6 separate regions of the Homo sapiens genome follow, and regions 2, 3, 4, 5 and 6 are each reported to be linked to region 1. Evidence: microRNA targets listed by miRTarBase, many of them from high-throughput screens and not tested one by one. Region 1 holds a microRNA gene; each other region holds the end of a gene's coding sequence.

Region 1 (3,000 bases):
TCCCTCCAGATCTGTGAGGCCCAAGATGCCAGAGCATCAGGAATACAGAAAATAAGAAAATAAAGTTCAAGTAGGTTTACAGTGAAAGTTTTTCTTGTTAGTTCCCAACTATACACCCTAGCACGAGTCCCAGAATTTCTACAGTCCTGGTTTACAGATGATACTCTCAGCAGAGGCAGAGTGACTAGGCTTCTCAATTTATTCATATGGATAATAAAGTGGCTCAAATAAAATGAATATTTATTATAAGGCCATAAAGCCATTTCACAAAAAATGAAGCAGAGGTGAATCTCCCAGGAATAGGAGCTGAGATCCAGGGAACCACTGAAGATAGAAGTTTCTCTCTCTTTGTCTCAACTGCATATAATCTTCCTCATCTATGATCATTGGCTACTGTCCACAGACAGGATCAAAATGCCCAGGGCCCAAGTCTACAGACCCATTTACTTCATAGGCCCACATCCATTTGACTAGAGACTCTGTGTCTCAGAAAATACATTTGCCTACAGGCTAGCCAACAGATTGACAGCCACCTGGATAGGTGTTGGTCCCTGGTCCAATCAGGGAAAAGGCTATGACATTAGACGAACTTGAACAGAGAGACTCATCTCTTCAGCAAGGGTGAGCATGGAGCTGACAGTGCTGTAGATAGGCCAGGCAGGCACCCTGAAACTACACCACCTCTGTTAGCTAAGAAATATAATTCTTCTTGACATTGAAGAAATTGCTAAAAATTGTGACAGGACTTGTGGCTGTTAACCTATTCAGAGGGAAAGATGGTAGTACCGAATGCTGCTCACTAAATATTCCCAGCTCTCTGCCCTCCGGCACATAGCACTCTATGGCTCCCAGTGGTTGGTGGAGGCCATGTAACTATTCTGGCCAATGAACTGAAAGCACAAACAATGTATGCCACTTTCCTGTTGAATGTTTATCTCTTGGCATGATTTCCTCTGAGCTCTCTTTGTCCCTGCCATGGTAGCATCCTCCTGATAGCGACTATTCTATCAGCCTGGGACCCAAAGCAGGGACAACACATGGGTTGTCAGAAGAACAAGAAGTCAACTTCCTTGTTAGCCACTGAGATTTGGAGTTTGTTATAGCATAACACAACCAATGCCAACTGGTTTAATAAATCCAAAAAGTTGTACTTATTAAGTAGAACCCAACAAATGCTATTAACTTTAATCATCCCTCAGTTCTGGGGAGAGCAGAGGAGACCTTATGCACTATCTTTTCTACTATTCATCTCAAATCTTTCCTAATCTATCATTTGTGGGGTAGGGTTTCACTTCCCTGCTTCCTAATTCATAAACTATCATGTTTATCATTATTTGGTCAGATTTCTGATTTTCTAGCTGATACCTCCCATTCTAATCCAAATTTGCTTTCTCCCCTCTGCCAGGGAGTTCTCATGACATGTAGCTAGGGCCTCACTTTGTGGCAATTTTATAAGCCTCTCATTAAACATTGGCACTGCCTCAGTTGCTTTCTGCACTGATTCTCCCAGGACTGGACCCCTGCCTACTCCCCAACTCAGCCAGCTTATGACTTGACCCTCTCACCTGATTTCTACCAACCTTTCCTCAGCTGATTTCTTTCTGGGGAGAGATTGGTAGAAATCAGGTGAGAGGGTCATGCCATAAGCTGGCTAACACTTTCATGCATTAATTAATACAGGAATCATAGCTATCATCTTAATCTATCACTCTCGTATCTATCTGATACTATGCATTAACGTTCTCAAAAGGCAAATTCCAACTAGAACAGTGTTTCTCAAATACCAATCAGTGGGCCAGAAGCAACAGAATTAGCTCAGTAACTCACTAGAACTCCAGGGTAGGTGCTTTAGTAGGTCTAAAAATATAAAGCAGAACATTTCTATGTTTGTTTGTTTTTATAACTTCCCCCAGGTGAGTCTGATGCACAAAAAAGTTTTGAACCCCTGGAACAGATCATTCTGTAGCTGCTTGAACTTCATAATTTGAACTATTTACCTCAACCTGGAGGCAGGCCTGGCTTTCTTGATCCCTTGTTTCAATTTTGACAATGTTCACCTTCTGCTCTGGCCAGGAGCTCCCAGGATGCCAGTAAACCAGACCTTACCACTCACCTCTGTATATAATGGCATCTCAAATTCCTTATTCACTTTTTGTACTTCTGGGTTACAAACATACTGGTGATTTTATATTATGATTTTTACAAATGGGTGAAATATGGTTTCTGGGCCTATAAAGTCAAGCACTAGATTCTAGATTCAAGGTCTCTCTACCAATTTGCCAAACCCCAGTGAAGTACTGCTTAAAGTTCTCAACTGGTCTTACCTCCTAACAATTGATAATTCACACAGCAATTGTCAAACCATCATATGAATTAACCAGTAAATCCCATTCTCTGCCAGTACTAGAGAGTTCTTTCAGAGTTTTTAGAGAGAAAGTATAGCATAATATAAGCCACAGATTCCAGAACCAGATTGCCTGACTGAAGTCCTAACTGCGCTGTTTATTAGCTGGTGATCTTGCACAAGTTACTTAGCTTGCCTCTGTCTCAGTTTTCTACTTCCTAGGCTTGTTACAAGAGTTAAAGGGACTGATACCTATAAGAAATCTTGTGCTTAGTATGTATTCAATGAACATTTAACCATTACCATGATTCTTACTTTTTAGTTATAGGCTATTTATTTACAACCACTTGTATATGAAACTTTCAACTGCACGCTTACCTTTGGGTACCTCTTGTAATTGATTCACCGGTAACTCACATGTCATTATGCTCTCTCATGCTAAAGCTCAGTCAGTAAGTAAATTGTTTCTTGGCCTCTAAGGACATGCATACCTCATTCAACTGCCGTAACCCAAATGCATGCAGATATCAAGCAAAGCAAACTGGTAAAAACTATGGCCAACTGGGGAACACAAACTTCATCTAAAAGGTCAGCCACTTCTCAGTCCAGCCTAATATTTCCATGCCTGAATGCAAACCCAATGCTTCCTTCTGTCT
Region 2 (4,052 bases), not on the chromosome of region 1:
CCTAGGGTACCCCTAGCACACAATGCTGAACCCACATCAATCCAGTGCATAATTGATTATCTAAAGGAAAAAGAAGTTTTCTAAAGTAAATAAAACTACATATTTAAAATATACTATGTATCAGCCAGATGTCAAAGGAGGGATCAGTTTTAATGGTTTCCAACATGATCACATGACAAATTAATTTCCTTTTTTAAATGTGGCAAATAAATGATTCCTTCATTTCACTTACCAAATGTGGCAGTTTGTGTAATTAATATTCTGTTCTAGTTTTGCAAAGAATGTTTTAAGAAGTTACTTCTTCCAAATCATGTCAAAATATTATTTTTATAAGTATATCCAGTTAAGATTGTTAAGATAATGTTCCTTACTTAAAATTAGATGTTAGTCCACAGAACTAAATTCAAGTAAACGCTCAGCATCTTCAGGAAGCTTTGAGATACTCTGACCAGTTACTATAGGAACTGAAAATAAAAAGTCCCCCTCCCTCCCCTTTTTGTAAGCTTGTAACTGCTCAAGAAATTATTCTATGGGGGTCAAATGTACATTCCCCTTTCATGTGAAACAGTATTTGGCTGGTTAAAACCAAGGATGAGTTACATACTTTAAAAATTGTTTTAGAAAAAAAAAAAAAAAGGCAGGGGGATGGAAATTAGGATTCCAAATTATGTTATTATACTTCATGACAAAATCCCTGTGGCTTCCTATCCAAAGCCACCAGGTAGTTGGTAAATGGTCCATTTTCAAACTTCAGACCTTATATCCCACTTCTGTAGGTTAAAAATATTGACCTTACTATAGGCCACTGAATATAAACATAGTTTGACAGTAATAATGTAAAATTTCATAGTCATATTTCTATTTAAGGTTGGAAGTTAGAGACAAGCACGGTTTACAAAACCTCTCCATGCCTGCACCTGACTGCTTGAGCTTAGGGTTGTTTGTGACAATTCCTCTACAGTATCATCCGCATGTGTGAGTGTTCTGTCAATTCCCTACCCAGGTCAACCAGCAATGTTTCTCACCCTGACATGTACCCAACTAGATAAGCATGAAGTTGGGACAATCATAAAAAGTAGGGAACAGAGTTCTTTTAATGGTCCATGTATTTAATTACATGTTTAAATTAAAACTTGAGAATTAAAACCTAGAAACTTTCGAGTTCTCCCAGCAACAAAAAGGATGTATATAGCTAATCGTGAACAATTGCATGCCTGCTAATTCAATTGCCTAGAATTCCAGTCATTAGCCAAGCAGTCTTCCAAATTAAAACATCCGGTCTCCTTCAATTTTCCACTTAAACCAGAACACAGGAGAATAGATTTGACCGATCAACTTAGGATAAAATTACACACGAAAAGTGACTTACGGTATATGGATTAGTAGTTGTACAGTGTATTTTTAACAACCTATGCTGCCACGTAGTTTCATGATTCATGAGTTTCTAGGGAATTACCTCAACATTCTTGATGTAGATTGTGAAAATGGGTCGCATTTTTTAAATGTGCATTTAGTATCTTCTTAAGTGACTAGAATGCTTACACATTTTCCACTCGAGTGATTTAAGGCATTCTAATAATTTCATAAACTCCGAATAGAATTGATATTAAAGATGCCAGGTATGATACATATTTAGAATCTATACACTACATAATCACAATAAAAAATACACACAAGAAATTCTCAGTTCATATAATTTATTGCAGTTAGCACACAGTTTAAAAATTCACCAACACACCAATAGTACAAAACTAAACAGCATTATAAGTTATTCCCCCTCAGGAAAATAAAACATACTATGATTGTCAAAGCTAGATGTCAGTCTAAGTTTTAGAACAAAGGAAGAATGTGAAACTAAGAAAAGGAAAAAGCAATCACTCACAATGACCACAAAAAGAAAATCCAAAAGAAAGTCCGTTTTCTCACAGACATTGATTGTCTTCTCTAAATTAATAAAAATTATTTTAACATAAACTGTATTTTAAAAAAACTAGAAACTCTTCAAGTAACTAAAGATAATGCTCCAAGGCCATTTTCACAGCTTTTTTTGTTTGTTTGTTTGCTTTAAATGCCATTACAGCCAAATTAACACACATTTAACCAAATATTTCCAAAACAGTCCAGCAACACACAATGGAGTTTTCCATTCAGTATCTTAAGCACAAAAATAGGCTATGTTTACAGTAGTTAAGGCGATCAAATTTTAAACAAAAGCAATTAAAAAAAAAAGGGAAAAACAGCAAACGTTTTCCATGCTACTCCCATAGACCTTATTTGTAAGTGCAAGACAGGAAAACAAACACTGTGCAAAATGCTTTTGCCTTGCGTGCTGGTCATTAAAACCACACGTTAGGCTGCAGCCTCTGCTGCCGCAATCCACATAGTCTACTAACCCCCTTCCCCATGTCAATCAAGGCAGTCCAGTCCTTTCAGCCTGGGGCTTTTTCAGTCCATAGAATCTTTTCATGAGTTGGGGGTGGAGGGTGGTGGTGGGGGGGGAGAGTAAGGGAGGGAGGGTAAGGAGGAAGGGGAGAAAAAGAAAAAGGGAGCAAACAAAAAAAAAGAGAGAACGACCTATTGTCAACTTGTGCAGTAGTTATTCTAAGAACGCTCAACTGGGTAAATGTGTACACCTAAACTCTGAGCTGGCATGGGTTTTGTGCAATTAGAAGTTTGTTATAAATGCACACTGCACATGCAAATCTTTAAGCTGTTTGTAAACATTTATATTTTCCTTGTTATGTAGCGAAGTTATCAATTTGCAGCTTAAGTTTTTATTCAGCTTAACAGTTTCAACTTAAAGACAGTGGGAAAGTCAATTTAAATTATATAAAATAAAAATAAAAACAGTGCATTTACGTTCTTCATAACACCAGTTTTTTTTTCCAAATGGTGTTATTTTTCTAAGGAAATTAAATAATTTTAAACTCACTCGTTAAAGTTATACAATGCAAACAAAGACAAAAAATATATTGAAACTCATGCATTTCTGTAGCGTTAATATTTACTTTTCAAGACTCAACTAAGAGCATCAACACAACCTGTCAAGTTCTTTGACACCCCCCCAGCCCATGTAATCAATTACAGTATACAATAACAGTAATTCACATTTTTAAACACACAGTTCAACACTGCTGAAGCTGCAATATCCTTTTTCATCCCAAGCAAACCTTCATAAGACAGTGTCCCAGTGATCCCAGTGTACTTTCAGCATTTCTCTCACTGGGAACTGTCAGAAAACCAGAAGTTGCCACAGAAAGTTTTAAGTCAACTGCTTGTTTAAAAATAGATAATCCAGCATTTCAGAAATTTTCCATTTGGGTCTAAAAGCATTCAGGTTTCCAACAGCCAGAAAAAATTCATGCAATTTGAGACATATAAAGAGGCTAATAAAACTGGAGGGAATTTCTACTTAAAAAAAAAAACAAAAAACAAAAAAACTTTGTTGGGGGGGAAAAAAGAGCTCAAAAGACAATGCAGTGTTGACAAAATTAAGCCATATGAAAGCATTTTGTGACAGGACGATTTGTTTAAAAGGTTCTTATTGGCTTACTTCCCCTATCCCCTCAAAGGAAAAACACCTCTCTATTCTGACTTGCTCTAAAGTTTCTTTTATCAGAATGCTAAATTAGTGAGATTCTCATGCTATTCTAAAGTGCAAAAACAAGTTAATATCCCAACTTTTTATTTCCAGGAAACAAGACTGCTTTTAGACCGTACCACAACTATATAGAGATCTATTTATATATATGTATATATATATATATTATTTATATATATATAAAATTATTTCCAAAGTTCTTGAGAGCTATCTTCTAAGGTCCAGTCTCTGACAGTAGGCAAGCTCAGTGCTTCGCTTTTGACCGACAAGGAGTTCACCAACTCACAGTGGAACTTGCGAATGTGTCTGTACAGGTCCCCGGACTGCGTGAACCTGCGCTCGCACCACTTGCAGGCGTGCGGCTTCTCGCGGGTGTGCACCACGGCATGGCGGCTCAGGTTGTGCGAGTACTGGAAGCTCTTGCCGCACTGGGTGCATGTGTAGGGCTTCT
Region 3 (4,052 bases), not on the chromosome of region 1:
GTCTCTGCTAAAAATACAACCATTAGCCAGGTGCAGTGGCACGTGCCTGTAATCCCAGCTACTCGGGAGGCTGAGGCAGGAGAATTGCTTGAACCCAGGAGGCAGAGGTTGCAGTGAGCCAAAAGCACGCCACTGCACTCCAGCCTGGACAACAATGTGAGACTCCATCTCAAAACAAACAAACAAACAAACAAACAAACAAAAACAAAAAAAAGCATACATGAGGGAAACGTGGTGTGAAAACGATCTTTTCTATGAAGAAAAACTGGTCATATTACTTTATCATGACATCTTCTAATATCACCCACTGAGCCATGGCAACTCCAGTGAAGAGGGAGTTGACTGTGGCACTAACCAGCTGCGTGTCTCGGTTTTCTCACTGGCAAAATCATGGTGTTCAATGAGGTCCCTTCCAGCGGCAACATTCTAGTAATCTTTGAGAGTCAAAAGACAAAGCTAGGCTGGGCATGGTGGCTCATGCCTATAATCCCGGGCACCTTGGGAGGCTGAGGCGGGCAGATCACCTGAGGTCAGGAGTTCAAGACCAACCTGGCCAACATGGTGAAACTTTGTCTCTACTAAAAATATAAACATTAGCTGGGTGTGGTGGCGGGCGCCTATAGTCACAGCTACTTGGGAGGCTGAGGCACAAGAATTGCTTGAACGCAGGAGGTGAAGGTTGCAGTGAACTGAGATTGCACCACTGCACTCCAGCCTGGGCAGCAAAGTGAGACTCTATCTCAAAAAAATCAAAAGACAACAAAAATTTTTGTACACTTTGTTTTTGTTTTTGTTTTTTTGAGACAGTTTTCCTCTTGTCACCCAGGCTGGAGTGCAATCTGGGCTCACTGCAACCTCCACCTCCAGGTTCAAGCGATTCTCCTGCCTCAGCCTCCTGAGTAGCTGGAATTACAGGCCACCATGCCTGGCTAATTTTTGTGTATTGTTAGTAGATGGGGTTTCACCACATTAACCAGCCTGGTCTTGAACTCCTGACCTCAGGTGATCCGCCCACCTCAGCCTCCCAAAATGCTGGGATTATAGGCATAAGCCACTGCGCCCAGCCCAGCCAACTTTTTTTTTTTTTCCAATTGGACGTAATTTCCCATTTTTGTAGATTCAAAAGGCAGACAGAATAATAGTATCTGTGGTTCTCAAAATTTACATATTGGAACCATTTATTTAAAAAAAAAAAGATTTTACTTTAGATTGGGTGTCTCATCCTTGGTCAGGTAATTCTTTGCTATGGGTGAGACTGCGCATTGCAGGCTGTTCAGTTGCATCCCTGGCCTCTCCCTACTACTAGATGGTAGTAGCATACTCCCCCACCCACCCACTCTGCCCACAGTTTCAACAACCAAAAATGTTTCCAGACATAGCCAAATGTTCCCTAGGGCAAAAGTGCCCAGGCTGAGGACTGCTGTGCTAGATATAGTTCTCTAATCTGGATTTAATCATACACATAAACTTTATTCATCATTGTCTTTATGTTATAGTAGGAAAATTAAGGCATTTCATAAAATATGAAATCAATTGTACAATGCATGATACAGTCAAAGATCTGGACATGGAATTGGTGTCTTAACTATCATTTCTCACCTTTAATCAATAAACATTATTCCTCTTGAAAGATGATGAAAAATTACTCATATTAAATACAGTAAAAATAAACATCATTAATCAAACACTACATTTCTAACCTCTTTACATTCATTAACAGTGTGGAATACAAACAATGATGGTTTTTGTTATGGCTTTGTGTTTCTTTAAAATGCTAACTAGGCCAGGCGTGGTGGCTCAAGCCTGTAATCTCAGCACTTTGTGAGGCCAAGGTGGGCAGATCACCTCAGGTCAGAAGTTCGAGACCGGACTGGCCAACATGGTGAAACCCCGTCTCTACTAAAAATACAAAGATTAGCTGGGCATGGTAGTGGGTGCCTGTAATCCCAGCTACTCGGGAGGCTGAGGCAGAAAAATCGCTTGAACCTGGGAGGCGGAGATTGGAGTGAGCTGAGATTGCGCCATTGTACTCCAGCCTGGGCAACAGAGCGAGACTCTGTCTCAAAAATAAATAAAATAGAATAAAATAAAATAAAATGTTAACTAAAATCGATTTCTAATTTGGGAAACATAATAACTAATACCATTTGATTTTAAAAAGAATTGTATCTTAATCATTAAGCTAAAGACATAGCAAGAAAACAATGACATGGTCACTTGAAGGGTGTCTCAGCCAACTTTTCATCATCTAATAAGACACCCTTAAAGTAATTCCAGCAGAAAGTCTCAGAAATTCATTGATCAACCTCCAAAGCACATCAGGGAAGGTGCTAATACAGTGGATAACAAGAACAATAAACAGCAGAACATGTTATTTAAATTTTTGAGATAATAAAACAATACAGAAGTAGGAACCCTTGTGAAATTATGTTCTGGTTTTGGGTAATGAGATCATTAATACGTTATAAACTTTATACGTGTGGCACACTGTAAGGATTAAAGAATGGAATAAGCAAGCGAGCTCCCTAAAACACCTGATATAAGAAACACCATGCTGGGCACAGTGGCTCACGCCTGTAATCCCACACTTTGGGAGGCCAAGGCGGGCAGATCATGAGGTCAGGAGATCGAGACCAGCCTGGCCAACATGGTGAAACTCTGTTTCTACTAAAAATACAAAATTTAGTGGGGCATGGTGGTGCATGCCTATAGTCCCAGCTACTCAGGAGGCTGAGGCATGAGAATCGCTGGAACCTGGGAGGTGGAGGTTGCAGTGAGCCGAGATTGGGCCACTGCACTCCAGCCTGGGTTCTGGGCAAGAGTGAGACACTCTGTCTCAAAAAAAAAAAAAAAAAAAAAAAAAAAGGCTGGGTGTGGTGGCCCACACCTGTAATCCCAGCACTTTGGGAGGCCAAGGCGGGCGTATCACGAGGTCAAGAGATTGAGACCATCCTGGCTAACACGGTGAAAACCCGTCTCTACTAAAAATACAAAAAAAAATTAGCTGGGCATGGTGGCGGGCGCCTGTAGTCCCAGCTACTCGGGAGGCTGAGGCAGGAGAATGGCATGAACCCCTGAGGCAGAGCTTCCAGTGAGCCTATATCATGCCACTGCACTCCAGCCTGGGCGACAGATTGAGACTCTGTCTCGAAAAAAATAAAGAAATACTGAATTGCAGTAACTTTTATAGGCACAAACTTCCTTAAGTTTCAAGCAAATGAAAGTCAACCCTCATTATTCATGAGGACTTCAAGTAGGCCATTTTACAAACAAGCTTAAGCACCCTACAAATGGCTTTTTCTTACTACAGAGTTCTTAGGATAAACGTGTTTATACTTTGGCTGAACAGTCACGTGGATATCATAAAGGTGGCGATGGTATGTCACTATCCGGTGAAACTGCTTGCCTTCCTTCATGATTTCCTCAGTCTTTTTTTCAGTAGACATAAGATTTTCCAAAAAGTCTGAATCTTCTAAATATAGCTCATCACCTGAAAAAGGAAAAAATCTGATTTTATTTTTAAATACAAAATTATTTTTCACCATGGCAGAAAGTATAAAATTTTAATTCCATCGAGTATTATTTTATAAATCACTCCAATATACTAATGAAATACAAATCAGTATTTTTATCTATTTCATATGTTTGGAACTGAGATAGTTGTTAAATCAGTATTTATTTTGATCTATTTAATATGTTTGGAACTGAGATAGTTGTTAACTAATCTAATTCTATGAGCTTACCTCAATTTCTTTATTGTGTTTTTTTATCTGTTTTTTGAGATGGAGTCTCACTCTGTTGCCCAGGCTAGAGTGCAGTGGCGCGATCTCGGCTCATTGCAACCTCCACCTCTTGGGCTCAAGCAATTCTCATGCCTCAGCCTCCCGAGTAACTGGGATCACAGGTGTCTGCCACCACGCCTGGTTAATTTTTGTATTGTTAGTAGAGACAGGTTTCGCCATGTTTACCAGGCTGGTCTCAAACTCCTGACCTCAAATGATTCACCCACCTCGGCCTCCCAAAGTGCTGGGATTACAGGCGTGAACTACTGC
Region 4 (4,052 bases), not on the chromosome of region 1:
AGGAGGAGGGACCCAGGGCCTAGGGTGGGTGTGGAGGAGGAGGAGGTATGGCCTGTGGGTGTCTCTTCTCATCTCCCCTCCTCCTGGTGTCCAGGCCCCGCCAGCAGGCGAAGCAGGGAGATGTCAGACTGCTACACGGAGCTGGAGAAGGCAGTCATTGTCCTGGTGGAAAACTTCTACAAATATGTGTCTAAGTACAGCCTGGTCAAGAACAAGATCAGCAAGAGCAGCTTCCGCGAGATGCTCCAGAAAGAGCTGAACCACATGCTGTCGGTAAGGCCTCTCACCCAAGGGCCTTGCCTCCCTCTCCCCTTCCCTCCCCTGCAAGCCTCTGGCCTCTGAGGGTGTCTTTCCCTGCTGAGGCCTCTATCCTTCCAGTGTCCCCGCTAACTCCAGGGTCTTCTACACCCCCAGGCCTCTGTCTTCTCAGGATGCTTAGGCCTAGCCAGTGAGGGCTATATTTGCATTTCCCAAGGGAAGCAGCTGTGCAGGCCAGATCCTGGGTCTCTGCCTAGGGTCCTGCCTGGAGTCTCTCTGGGGCTTCCACCATCAGCATTGCTGACCCTGCTTCCTCCCCAGGACACAGGGAACCGGAAGGCTGCGGATAAGCTCATCCAGAACCTGGATGCCAATCATGATGGGCGCATCAGCTTCGATGAGTACTGGACCTTGATAGGCGGCATCACCGGCCCCATCGCCAAACTCATCCATGAGCAGGAGCAGCAGAGCAGCAGCTAGAGACCCCTTTGGCCACACCTTCCAGGCACTGGCCTGATGCCCCGCCCTGGTGCTCTCCCCAGGCTCCCTCCTCAGCCTCCTGCCCACCCAGGGCCCTTTACTCTCTTCTCCCTCCAGACCTTCCTCTGACCCTTGCTGAACTGGGGTCCCTTTGTGAGTGTCTCAGTCTAGAGGTACCTCCCTCCCTGGGGGGTCTCAGCTCCTGGAGTCGCAGGCCCTTGGGGCCCCTCTGTGAGATCTCAATGCTGTCTGGGGACCCTAAGAGTTTTCTCACCTGTTCAGTCTCATCTAACCTTCCAATGTCTGATGTTCCTGCCAAATTCCTGCCTGATTCTGGGTCCGTCCTGACCTCCAAAGGTCAGCTTGGTGCTTGAGGTCTCCCTGCTCTTGGTGGCAGTGGTAGCAGCAACAGCAGCAGCAGCAGCAGCAGCAGCAGCAGAGACCTCTCCACTTTCCCTTAGCCCCTCTGCTGGGTAGAGAGGCACTTTCAGGGACTTCCCTCCAGCTGCCTCTTCATCTGGGAATGAGCTAAGCAAGGCTGAGCCTCCTCCTGTTGCTTGAAATAATGATGATATAAAGGCTGGATTTGGAGTTTGTATCCCCTGGTCCCTCTGGGATGCTCATTAAAACCTTCCCACTCCTTGGAAACGTTTTATGCTTTGGTGGTCTTAGCCCTTGGGCCCTGTGATAAGAGAGAATCTCACAGAAGAACCTCAAAGGCAGAGCAAGAAAGGAGCCAGAACTCCTAAATTCCAACAGGCACTGTCAGCTGTGGGCCAGCAGCTCCCTCCATCCTCCTCCATAAAGGGCCAAAGGCCTTAGGTCACCATCTCTGGGCCCTTTTAGCCCAGACTCAGACTCAAATTCAACTTCCAGGCACACTGTAAGTCCCGTTTAGTCCTCACTGCAATTCCACGAGAGAGGGACCATGACCCTTAGTCTTTTTTTTTTTTTTTTTTTGGAGCGGAGAGTTTAATAGGCAAGAAGGGGCAAGACGGAAGGGAGAAGGAAGAAGCTCCCCTGTACAGAGACAGAGGGACGGAGGCCCCAAAGCTGAGAGAGGGAACCCCACCTGCCACAGATACCATCTAGGTATATATACAGAGGCTGGAGGAGGAGGAGTCTGATTTGTATAGGGCTCAGGGGATTGGTTTGACTATGCGTGTCATTCACGTAGCCCTCGGAAAAAGCTGGCCCTCACACCCTAGCCTTTTTTTTTTTTTTTTTTTTTTTTGAGATGGAGTTTCACTCTTGTTGCCCAGGCTGGAGTGCAATGGCGTGCAATCTCGGCTCACCGCAAGCTCCGCCTCCCGGGTACAAGCAATTCTCCTGCCTCAGCCTCCCGAGTAGTTGAGAATACAGGTATGTGCCACAATACCCCGCTATTTTTGTTGTATTTTTAGTAGAGACGGGATTTCTCCATGTTGGTCAGGCTGGTCTGGAACTCCTGACCTCAGGTGATCCGCCCGCCTCGGCCTCCCAAAGTGTTGGGATTACAGGCGTGAGCCACCGCACCTTGCCCCACCCTAGCCTTTTAATATGCAAATGCAGGTCTACACACCTGGGGATATGTGAGGGCAGCCACATTGCCAGGAACATGTGGGGAAAGGGCAAGAAGGCCGGGGGAATCACCATGTTTGGGTGGACCCAGTTTCTAAGGGCTTGCATTTGCATATCAAAGGTTGCCAACCTGGCTCTAAGAGCCGGGGCTTTACAAGAAACTTTTCTGGAGATGCTTCAAAAAAATGAAAACTCCAGCCTGACCAACATGTAGAAACCCCGTCTCTACTAAAAATACAAAATTAGCCGGGCGTGGTGGCGCATGCCTGTAATCCCAGCTACTCGGGAGGCTGAGGCCAGAGAATCGCTTGAACCCAGGAGGCGGAGGTTGTGGTGAGCCAAGATCGCACCATTGCACTCCAGCCTGGGCGACAAGAGCAAAACTCCGTCTCAAAAAAAAAGAAAAAGAAACAAAACAAAAAACTTCCCAAGGACCCAAGGACCCATTTTCCTCTCTATCTGCCTAAAATAATTTCTTAATAACTCCTACAACATTCCCCCCTGTGGAGATGCCACACTAACTGCTGTTAGGGAGTTTTGGGCGACGACTCCTTCTGGCTACTTCTTGTTGCAAAAGGGCGTCGAATGGGGAAGAGCAGCTAGGGCTCCTCCTGGGGTCAATCTAAGGGTCCTCAGAAGAATGATGTGTCTATGTGTGGTTCTGTTTACAGCACCATTTGGAGTTTGATTGCTTCTAGATGAGAAGAAACAATTTGAGTTATAGTATTGTGTATACAGGGTCCAAATATCAATACAAGACACATAAGCAAGAGAGGGCTTAATAAAGGGGTTAACCAATTCCATAAAGAAGACTGGAATTTATTAAAGAGGCATTGTAGCCACTCGGGGATCAATAATTTTGATTTGATTTTTAAGTACTTGTAGATTTTCTTTTAACTAGAGGCATTAATCCGAAAGCAGCATGTTTCATTGAAAACTGCATCACTAAACCCAATAAAAAGTCCTAGCAGATTCAGTGGTAGTAAAACTTTTATGCTTCCTTTTCATTAGTAGCTATTATCCCTGCTATAAGGATAATGATTAAGCAAAATATGACAGCAATGGAAACTCTCTGTTTAATATTTCAGTTAGAAGGTGCTACCATGTATAATCCTATTGCAAATAATAGAGTGAGTATAGCTATTTCCATAAGTGTGGTGTGGTAGATAATTTCCATCTAAACTTTTACCTGTCAAGATATAGAATTCCCCTTTGGGGGTCTATGAAGTTCCTTGGTTTTATTTTCCTAAACGAAGAAACCTCTGGGTTATGGGCACCCTACTCACTTTTATTACCTGGTAGAATTTGCAGAATAATTGCCCAGAACTAATATATTGATTCAGATTTTATATTACCCATCCCTTAATTTTTCTTCCAAGCTGCAGGAGATCACTGCTTGATTCACAGGAATAAGCAGGGTTAGTCTAAAATGTAGGCGAAAAGCTTGAAAACAAAAACAAAAAACAAAAAAATGTATGATAAGCTTTGGAGCACAATTTTTCTCTCTAGTCCTCGTTCTTGGTAAAAACAAGTTATGAATAAACTGTAGTCTTATACTTGCCCTGATTATTTGCATAAAGTGCAGCAAGAATGGTTATTTGTACACAGGCCTTTTGATTGGCTTTGATGAAACTCTGTTTCACAAGGAATTTCAGATAAGACTATTAAAGCCTAAAGTTTGTATTTGAGGATACAAACCTCAAATACCTGTTAGTTGGGTGATCCTCTCCTCTTGAGGTCCCAAGATAAACTCG
Region 5 (4,052 bases), not on the chromosome of region 1:
ACATTCATCTTTATACCAACATAGTCATAACATTAATTTTTTTTTGAATGGAGCAAGAGCTCCGTGAAGGCTAAAGTGCCTAGGGCCCCTGAAATTCATGATGTAACTCTGATCTTCCAGCTTCTACACCAGTCACTCCCTCACCCCAATGTCCTCTGGGTTTCTCAGACCCACTGGGGCCACATGTCCTCTGTGGCTTTGCTCCTGCCAGGCTGCTGCCTGTGTAACAACTCTGCTTATTGAGCCCTTCCCATCTGAGGACTCATCTTCCGAGGTCTTAGGTCAAACATTGCCATCTTTGTGAGGCCTTATCTGATTCCCTAAGTGGAAGGAATTGCTCCTTCTAACTCATCCAGCACCTCTTGGAGCATCTCCAGGCTTGCTATGATTTGCTTACATTTAGCGTGTGAGTTCCACGGGGACAGGACCTCGTTTGACGTCTCACGTCTCCACGTGCTTGACACAATACATAAGCTAGATTTAGGGCCAGAGAATGTTTGGGGACATGAGACAGTGGCTGTAACAGAACTTTTCAGATGTGTGTGGTTCTTCATAGCCCAAATCAACTGATTCAGCTAAGGGACAACACAGGTAAGAGAACACAACGCGAGTTTCCTTGACCAATGCCAGAAAACCTTTATTTCCACTGAGACCTCTCATCCAATTCTCTTCTTTCCGGGAACTTTTTCCCTTCCCTACTCCAGGTCGTACCCTGGCCACTCCTTTCCTTTTGGCTGGCCAATGTCTCCTCTGTAGGCTCCAGAAGGCTCTCAGGGATGTAGGCGGCCTCCCGCAGGGTTGAGTTGCAATGGGAACAAAGACAGCTGTGGTCCCATAGCACCCTCATCTGGTGACATCCTGCTACTGACAGTCAAAAGAAGCCTTCCCAGATGAAATTTTAGTCCTCTGCGCAGCCATGCTCTTCTTCCAGCAAAAGAGCCATGTGCAGTCGGGTCTGCTCCCCATGGGGGCTTTGATGTGGGCCCAGCAGTGGATCAGCCTTCCAGACACGCTCAACTCTGCACACTCTTCCTGCCGCCTCAGGCTTTCCAGGACCCTCCCGAGCCTTATCAGAGTCCTTACCCTCAGGGCTACTGATACCTTGCTGGGTGACCTTGGACAGATTCACTTACCTGGACTCAGTTTCATAATATGAAAATGATAGGGTTGGGCTACGTGATTTTCACGTTGTGCTTCCAGATTGTTAGAAGTTAGGGGCTGGAAGGCATTACCTGTCCCTCTCTCAATTTCACTCATGCTACTTTGTTTTTTTAATCTACCTTTTATATGGGGCTTAGAAAAAAGGGTTCTGGGACAAACCTGAGAATCACTGGCTCCAGGAGCTTTCTTTTAACACTAACATCCCAGGATTCCTAAGTGTGCTCTCTCCACAATGGCTACCTGGCCCTGTTTTTCCTTTCTTTTTTTTGGAGATGGAGTTTTGCTCTTGTTGCCTAGGCTGGAGTTCAGTGGCGCGATCTTGGCTCACTGCAACTTCCGCCTCCCAGATTTAAGCAATTCTCCTGCCTCAGCCTCTTGAGTAGCTGGGATTACAGGTGTGCGCCACCATGCCTGGCTAATTTTTATATTTTTAGTAGAGATGGGGTTTTACCATGTTGGCCAGGCTGGTCTCGAATTCCTGACCTCAGGTTATCCACCCGGCTCGGCCTCCCAGAGTGTTGAGATTACAGGCATGAGCCACCGTGCCCGGCCCTGGCTGTTTTCCTATGCTCTGTGGAGGCCAGCCAGCTAGAAATGATTAGAATGGAGGAAGAGGGAATGAGAAGGCTGGTGGCGAGTGGTCTAGCGTTCTTGTGGTGCAGCGGAAGGAGCCCTGGCTCAGCATTGAAGAACGAGCCTCAGTCTTGGCTCCAGCCATCTGCTAGCTATGGGACTACAGACAAGCCCCTTTACCTGTGTCTCAGTTTTCGTATCTGTAAAATAGGCACAGTGGTTTCTGTCCTGTCTTTCTCACAGGATTACTGTACAGATAAAGTAAGATAAAGGACACCTGTCAAGGAGATATCTGTAAACAGTTCTACAGACTTCAGGTAATAATAGCAAGGGAGGATCTCTTAGACCTCTGATCTGTCTGTTAGAATATACTTTTTTTTTTTTTTTTTTTCCTGAGATGGAGTTTCGCTCTTGTTGCTCAGGCTGGGGTGCAATGGTGCTGTCTTGGCTCACTGCAACCTCTGCCTCCTGGGTTCGAGTGATTCTCCTGCCTCAGCCTCCCAAGTAGCTGGGACTGCAGGTGCGTGCCATCATGCCCAGCTAATTTTTGTACTTTTAGTAGAGATGGAGTTTCACCATGTAGTCCAGGCTGGTTTCAAACTTCTGACCTCAGGTGATCCACCTGCCTTGGCCTCCCAAAGTGCTAGGATTACAGGTGTGAGCCACTGTGCCCAGCCAGAATATATCATTTCACTGGACTCTGCAGGTGCTTTGGATGATCAAGGAATAGGACATGGCTGTAGAAGTACTTTTCTTCTTCTTTTTTGTTTTTTTTTGAGACAGAGTCTTACCTGTTGCCCAGGCTGGAGTGCAGTGACACAATCAAGGCTCACTGTAGCTTCAACCTCCGGGGAACAAGCAATCCTCCCACCTCAGCCTTCTGAGTAGCTGCGACTACAGGCATAAGCCACCATACCCAGCTTTTTTTTTTTGCCGGGGGGAGGGTGGGCGTAGAGATGGGATCCTCACTATGTTGCTCAGGCCGGTCTTGAACTCCTGGGCTCAAGCCATTCTCCCACATTGTCTTCCCAAAGTGCTAGGATTTCAGGCATGAGCCACTGTGCCCAGCCTGAAGTACTTTTCTTGAACTCAGCATTGCTGCCCTGAACCCTCCCCCAGCTGCCTTCCCTACTTTGGGAGCCTCTATTTCTAGAACAGGAAAACGCTAGGCTAAATATATGTCCTAATGGTCTCTTCCATCGGTGTGAAGGAAAGAAAATGGGCCCAATGTTGTTGCAAGGATTAGGAAGGTCCTGCCTTGCCACCCAGTGGGTTTAGAAATCCATCTTTACGGCCTCCAGAGAAGCTGGTGATCAGGTTCCCAGACATCAGCAATCCTGTTTCCTGAGGAGCTTGTGGGGGCTCTCTCTGGGGATGATCTGGGTCCTAGACAAAGAGCCACAACTGATGGGGGTCACTGGGATTGCAGGGGGCCATGGCTGGCTTTTTGTCCTGGGATGTCAGGCAGGTACCAGATCCTGAGTTCCTGATGAGCTGATCCTAAAAGATGACAAAGCAAAAGGTCAGTCTGGGCCACAGACCTCTTAACGGTGCTACCAGGGACAATGCGATGGGGTGCAATTGACAAAAGCCAAGGGAACCCCACAAGGCACAAAGAGGACACTTCCCCATTCCTTTCCTGCCCTCTCATGAGACACATTCCTGAGTTCCCACCTCTATCTGGTGCCAAATCCCCATCCCTAGCTTCAGACTGAGTGGATGAAATGGTGAAAGACAAGACCATGGGCTGAGAGAAAAATGCTTTCAGGGCCTCCCGCACCCCCAGATGGCCAGGCTCAAAGACCCAGGGCCACTGCTCCACCTCCAATTTTCTGCCTTGGATTATGTTTAGACTGCTCCCTTCCCTGCAGCCTCCAGGTTAGGTTCCTCTTTCCTAAGCTGGGGTGGAGTAGGGAGGCTCACTTGGGGTGCTGGCTTGAGCTCAGCATGGTGGCGGTTACATGGCATATCCTGGAGCAGTGTGGTGTAATGGAAAGAGCCCGTGCTTTCAAGTCAGACCCATCTGGGGCTAAATCCCAGGCCTGCCATTTACTAGTGATGGGTCTTGGGCCAGTCACAGACATGCTGGGCTTCCTCCGGCTCCAGCTCATCTGTAGAAACAGTGACTATTCCTGCTTGGAAAGAGCCTCTGAAAGATTAACTGGACCCAGGCATGTGAGTGCCTAGCTTTGAGCCTAGGACACAGAGGACAAGCAGGAACTATGAATGACTCTTCACCTTCTTCTAATTGGGTTCAGCCTAAAAATGCTTCAGCCATGGCAGAGCTAGCCACGAACCATAACCTGTCACCCCATTTT
Region 6 (4,052 bases), not on the chromosome of region 1:
TCCTCGGGCTACCTGATGGGGGATTTTACTGGGGTCAGAGACGAAGATAATAGGTTCAGCTAGAGGGTATGGTATGAGCAGATGAGTATTTTGATCCCTTTATAATACATACTGATTTATTAATATTCTCAAGAGTCCCTTGTTTTTACTTCGGGCAAAGTAATGAAGTGCTGTCCTCTGCGTAGCCTACCTTTGATATCAAGCAGCTTCTGCATGTTGGGCCTTGGCCCAACCTCGCCTGAGCATCTCACAGTACCCGGGAATGTTCCTCACGAAGGCACACAGTGCAGGGTTTTTGCTGTTAGAGACTTGGGAGGATTGTGTCTGTCACATACACAGGGCCAAGCAGCTGAGATGGACATAGCCTGCTGGTACAGGGAAGCCCGCGAGTCCGCCATACATAGGATACCCTCTGGCATACTGTGCGGCCGAGACATCTGGAATCAGTTGGCTGGGCTTGTGTGGCATTTAGTATTTTTTATTTTGGAAAATAACTGGTTTTATTGGCTGTATCTACTTCACTTAAACAGTTGGATTTTTCCCTCCTTTTCCAGGTGAAAATAAGTCCCCTCCTCGCCCATGTGGCTTGAATCACTCAGACTCTCTCAGTCGAAGCGACCGGATTGACGCCGTCACACCAACACTGGGGAGCAGCAATAACCAGCTCAATTCTTCGCTCCTCCAAGTCTACATCCCCGATTACTCGGTGCGAGCCCTTTCGGATCTGCAGTTTGTTAAGGTGAGAGACGTGAGTGCAGTGTGGCTGGACCTGGCAGTTAGTTGTCAACTTCCCTGGCAAATTGTCTGTTTTGCTCCTTGCCCTCCTCAGAACTCTCCCTTTGTCACTTTGTGGGTGCCCTGCCTTCCATTCTCAACTACACACCCTGTCTTCGTCTGCTGTGCCCAAGCCTCAGGTTGAGAAAAACGTTGATCTTCTTGGTTCTATCCAATGAGCTGCCAAATCAAATGTGGCTCTTTCAGGGAATGGGAGCCAGAGATCCTGGAAAAAAGAGTAGCCCCTTTTCAAAGAGCTCCTGGGTGCGTGGCTCCCTGCCTGGCCCTGGGAAGGCTGAGGTCAGGAGACTTGGAGGGTTGCGGGGAAGGCTCCACCTCTGTCTTCTGCCGGGCAGTCAGAGTACTCATCTTGGTCTGAAATAAAGATGACTTTTGGAGAACAAGCCAGCTTTAGCTGGGAGAAACCAGTCTCTATTTTCTAGTCCCTAAAATTTTGAGACAATATTTGGAAGTGGGTTACATCAGTAAGAACTGACTTGTTCACCAAAGTCAACTTGAACTTGACAAAGTGGCTCACTGCGCTCAAGTGTGATTTTCTCCTAGAGAGGCTGCTGTGGGCCTGTCGGGATTGAACGTGTGGAGATCAGAGAACCTAAAAATAAGCATTATCTTGGTTTGTTTTCTGTGCCATCTTCTGGCCCCAGATCTCAAGACAGCAATACCAAAATGCCTTGATGGCATCCCGGATGGACAAAACCCCCCAGTCTTCAGACAGTGAAAACACTAAAATCGAATTGACTCTTACGGAGCTGCATGACGGGTTGCCAGACGAGACAGCCAACCTGCTCAACGAACAGAACTGTGTGACGCACAGTAAGGCCAACCACAGCCTGCACAACGAAGGCGCCATCTAGGCCGCGCTGGCTGCACCCGCCCAGGCCCGCACCCGCCCAGTCCCGAGGGCCCGGCCCTGTCTGCCCATGACTTCACTGGTGTGAGCTTGTCCGCCATGCTGTACCCTGCAACATCCTGAGACCAAAGACCTTGTGCCCTTCCCAGGAGCCGCGGAGGAGGACAGTGAGGGAGGAATGGAAACGAGAGATGTGAAGTTGGCAGCCGGGGCATGGCGTTCAAGATTTTGGAGATGAACTGATTCCGCCCAAATAGAATCATGTTTATTTTTTCAGCTCTCCCTTTTATCATTATTCACACTCCTCTGCCCTCGATTTGCATGAAGTTGAAAATTGTTGCGATTTATTTTTTCAAGAGATCATGTTTTTAAAGTGTCTTTTGCAGAGTTTTAAGTTGTTCTGTCTGAACTCTGCTGTGATCCCATGATGTGACCCTGATGGGCTGGACTTGCCCCTCCGGTAGCCTTCCTTGGCCCTCCCAGCGAGGGGCACCCTTCCTCTGTGCCCCAGTGGGCATCACCGTCGATCTCGCTGGCTGAATGAAGAAGACCGTGTTACTGCAGAACCTGCCAAGTCTGTCATCACTGTGGGGTGTAGCCTGCCTCAGAGGGACCTGCAATCACCTCTCTGAGCTCAGTGGTATTTTGAGAATTTAATGTTTAACTGTACCCCTTTCCCTCAGGAAGATTTAACATTTGCTTGGGAATGTGATTTTGCTCCCACCCTAAGGAATTTTTATCACCAAAATGAATGTTAATGAATTTAAAACCCATGGTTTATCATTGGCAAGAGGCAAGTTGACTTCATCCTGTCATTCCAGCCTGGGGTCTGCCAGCCAGCCCTCCTCCCCGACCCAGCGCCTAAGCTCACAGAGTGTCGTCGCCCACCTCCCTGGTCCTTGCTCTTGTTAACCCAAGATGCTGCTACACAGATGCCAAATGGAAATCTTCCACAGGGCTTTTTCAGTAAACACGTGATGTGGAGTGCAAGCTCCTCCCCTTCCCACTAGAACATACTTTAACAGAAAACGAGTCGGACCTTCTAGCTGCACTCTGTACTGTGTGCCGAGAAGGCATTTCTAGACCCGTGTTTTTAAAGGAGGGAACTTTGGGGATTGCCAGCCCCTGCTCCTCCTCCCAGGGAGCCAACTGTCCCTCCTCCCCTGTCCCTGGGCCCATGGGGCCCGGCAGTGGCTGTGTCCCCTGCCTGAGGGCTCTGTGCCTCCTGCCTCAGATGCGGCCTGTGCCAGAGAGGCTGCCTGTACAGCCAGGGTCAGTTTGGCCCCAAACAGGGATTCAGAAACCAAATGTGTGTTGTGGCCATTTTATGTGTGTCTCCGTCTTATTTTAATACCAAATTCATCATGTAGTGAAATTATGTCAGGAGGTATATGAGTGACTGAATTCTTAACTATAGCTTATCTGTGTTTTGTTAGCCCGAGGGATATGTGCAGGTTGTTGGCGCTATTCATGCACTGAAATGAAATCATACTGACCAGTGTACACACAAGATTATCAGTGCCCGCCGCATCCATCACTAGGAAAGGAGAGAGCGTTTTCTGTTTAGGCTCACTGCGCAAAGGGAGGCCTTGGCTAAGTGGCAGTTTTCTTCTCCCTACTCCAGGTAGGAAGTCTGTTCAGCCACGGCTGGGCTGTGTGCGGGGCAGGGAGCGTGGCTGAGGAGCAGACAGCAGCGGGCCGGGCTGGCTGCCTGGTGAGCAGTTTGGTGCCTCGGGTGTTGTGCATGCCCGGCTCAGTATTTCCTCTGGGATGCCAGTCCTGGAGTGTCTTCCTCAGAAGGTGCCGTGTCCCTTAGTGGGGGGAAGTACTGATCTCACTTGGTGTAGAGGGTCACAGGGACCCCCCGAGGGTGCTGAGTGGCCTGCTACTGGCACGCAACCTGCCCCCGTGGGATGAAGCCCCACCGCGTAGCTTGACCTTAGAGGGGACCCCACTCTAAGCATCCTTTTTTTTAAACAGAGCCATCTAGATACAAAAGTCAGTTTCTTAAGATGCCTCTCACTGAGCACAACACCAGTGTGATGAGTGTATAAAGATGAGGGGTCCTTGCAACAAAGCAAAGCGTAGCCCATGCTGGAAGAGGGCATCTATCCCCCTCTTCGGGTCTGCGCAGTGCTGGCCTTCCCTGAGCTGTGGGGAGCCAAGCCTGCCTAGCCCAGCTTCTCTGGCCTCAGGAACTCTGCCCTGTCAACCTATCTGGGCTCACGTCTGCTTCTCCACACACAGTCTCTCGGGGATGCCTTGCTACTGGGAGAGCCTCTGGAATCAGAGCTAGTGTGTTGGTGCCCTTTTCAGAGCTCTGCTGTTCCTTTATAAATCCTAAAGAACTGAGTCTGGGGAGAGGAGAGGGGATGCCAGCTGCTGCCTCTGACTTCAGGGAGAAGCA

Evidence for each region. Region 1 holds the annotated microRNA hsa-miR-5186 (AGAGAUUGGUAGAAAUCAGGU, at 1,608-1,628, shown strand). A microRNA usually pairs through its seed, bases 2 to 8, with sites in the 3' UTR of a target mRNA and lowers its output. Matches are read on the target gene's strand: a 7mer-m8 pairs with bases 2 to 8, a 7mer-A1 pairs with bases 2 to 7 and ends in A, and an 8mer does both.
Region 2: the mRNA of ZBTB18 is a reported target of hsa-miR-5186. Seed matches in the 3' UTR shown: 7mer-A1 at 3,633-3,639.
Region 3: miRTarBase lists NUDT19 as a target of hsa-miR-5186. Seed matches in the 3' UTR shown: 7mer-m8 at 2,938-2,944, 7mer-m8 at 2,781-2,787, 8mer at 2,012-2,019 and 7mer-m8 at 1,997-2,003.
Region 4: the mRNA of S100A16 is a reported target of hsa-miR-5186. The part of its 3' UTR that is shown has no 7-base or 8-base seed match.
Region 5: the mRNA of GALNT6 is a reported target of hsa-miR-5186. Seed matches in the 3' UTR shown: 7mer-A1 at 1,681-1,687.
Region 6: miRTarBase lists CNNM2 as a target of hsa-miR-5186. The part of its 3' UTR that is shown has no 7-base or 8-base seed match.

The regions. Positions count from the first base shown.
Region 1 is chr3:151,564,532-151,567,531 of GRCh38, reverse strand. It overlaps MIR5186 (microRNA 5186), which reads left to right and starts at 1,537; the gene lies at 1,537-1,656. The region is part of intron 1 of LINC02066 (long intergenic non-protein coding RNA 2066); the gene reads right to left. It also overlaps a transcript of IGSF10 not described here.
Region 2 is chr1:244,055,105-244,059,156 of GRCh38, reverse strand. ZBTB18 (zinc finger and BTB domain containing 18) reads right to left here. Exons shown (of 2, transcript NM_205768.3): 2 at 1,681-4,052. The coding sequence ends at 3,787. Among named protein-coding and RNA genes, the nearest start is that of ZBTB18, 5.8 kb to the right of the region's middle.
Region 3 is chr19:32,711,190-32,715,241 of GRCh38, reverse strand. NUDT19 (nudix hydrolase 19) reads right to left here. Exons shown (of 3, transcript NM_001105570.2): 3 at 1,450-3,490. The coding sequence ends at 3,285. Among named protein-coding and RNA genes, the nearest start is that of TDRD12, 6.6 kb to the left of the region's middle.
Region 4 is chr1:153,604,220-153,608,271 of GRCh38, reverse strand. S100A16 (S100 calcium binding protein A16) reads left to right here. Exons shown (of 3, transcript NM_080388.3): 2 at 95-273; 3 at 580-1,386. The coding sequence starts at 121. The coding sequence ends at 738. Among named protein-coding and RNA genes, the nearest start is that of S100A16, 6.9 kb to the left of the region's middle. RefSeq lists an enhancer at 2,287-3,242.
Region 5 is chr12:51,351,259-51,355,310 of GRCh38, forward strand. GALNT6 (polypeptide N-acetylgalactosaminyltransferase 6) reads right to left here. Exons shown (of 12, transcript NM_007210.4): 12 at 1-3,234. The coding sequence ends at 3,121. Among named protein-coding and RNA genes, the nearest start is that of CELA1, 6.6 kb to the left of the region's middle.
Region 6 is chr10:103,075,532-103,079,583 of GRCh38, forward strand. CNNM2 (cyclin and CBS domain divalent metal cation transport mediator 2) reads left to right here. Exons shown (of 8, transcript NM_017649.5): 7 at 555-739; 8 at 1,440-4,052. The coding sequence ends at 1,649. Among named protein-coding and RNA genes, the nearest start is that of NT5C2, 120 kb to the right of the region's middle.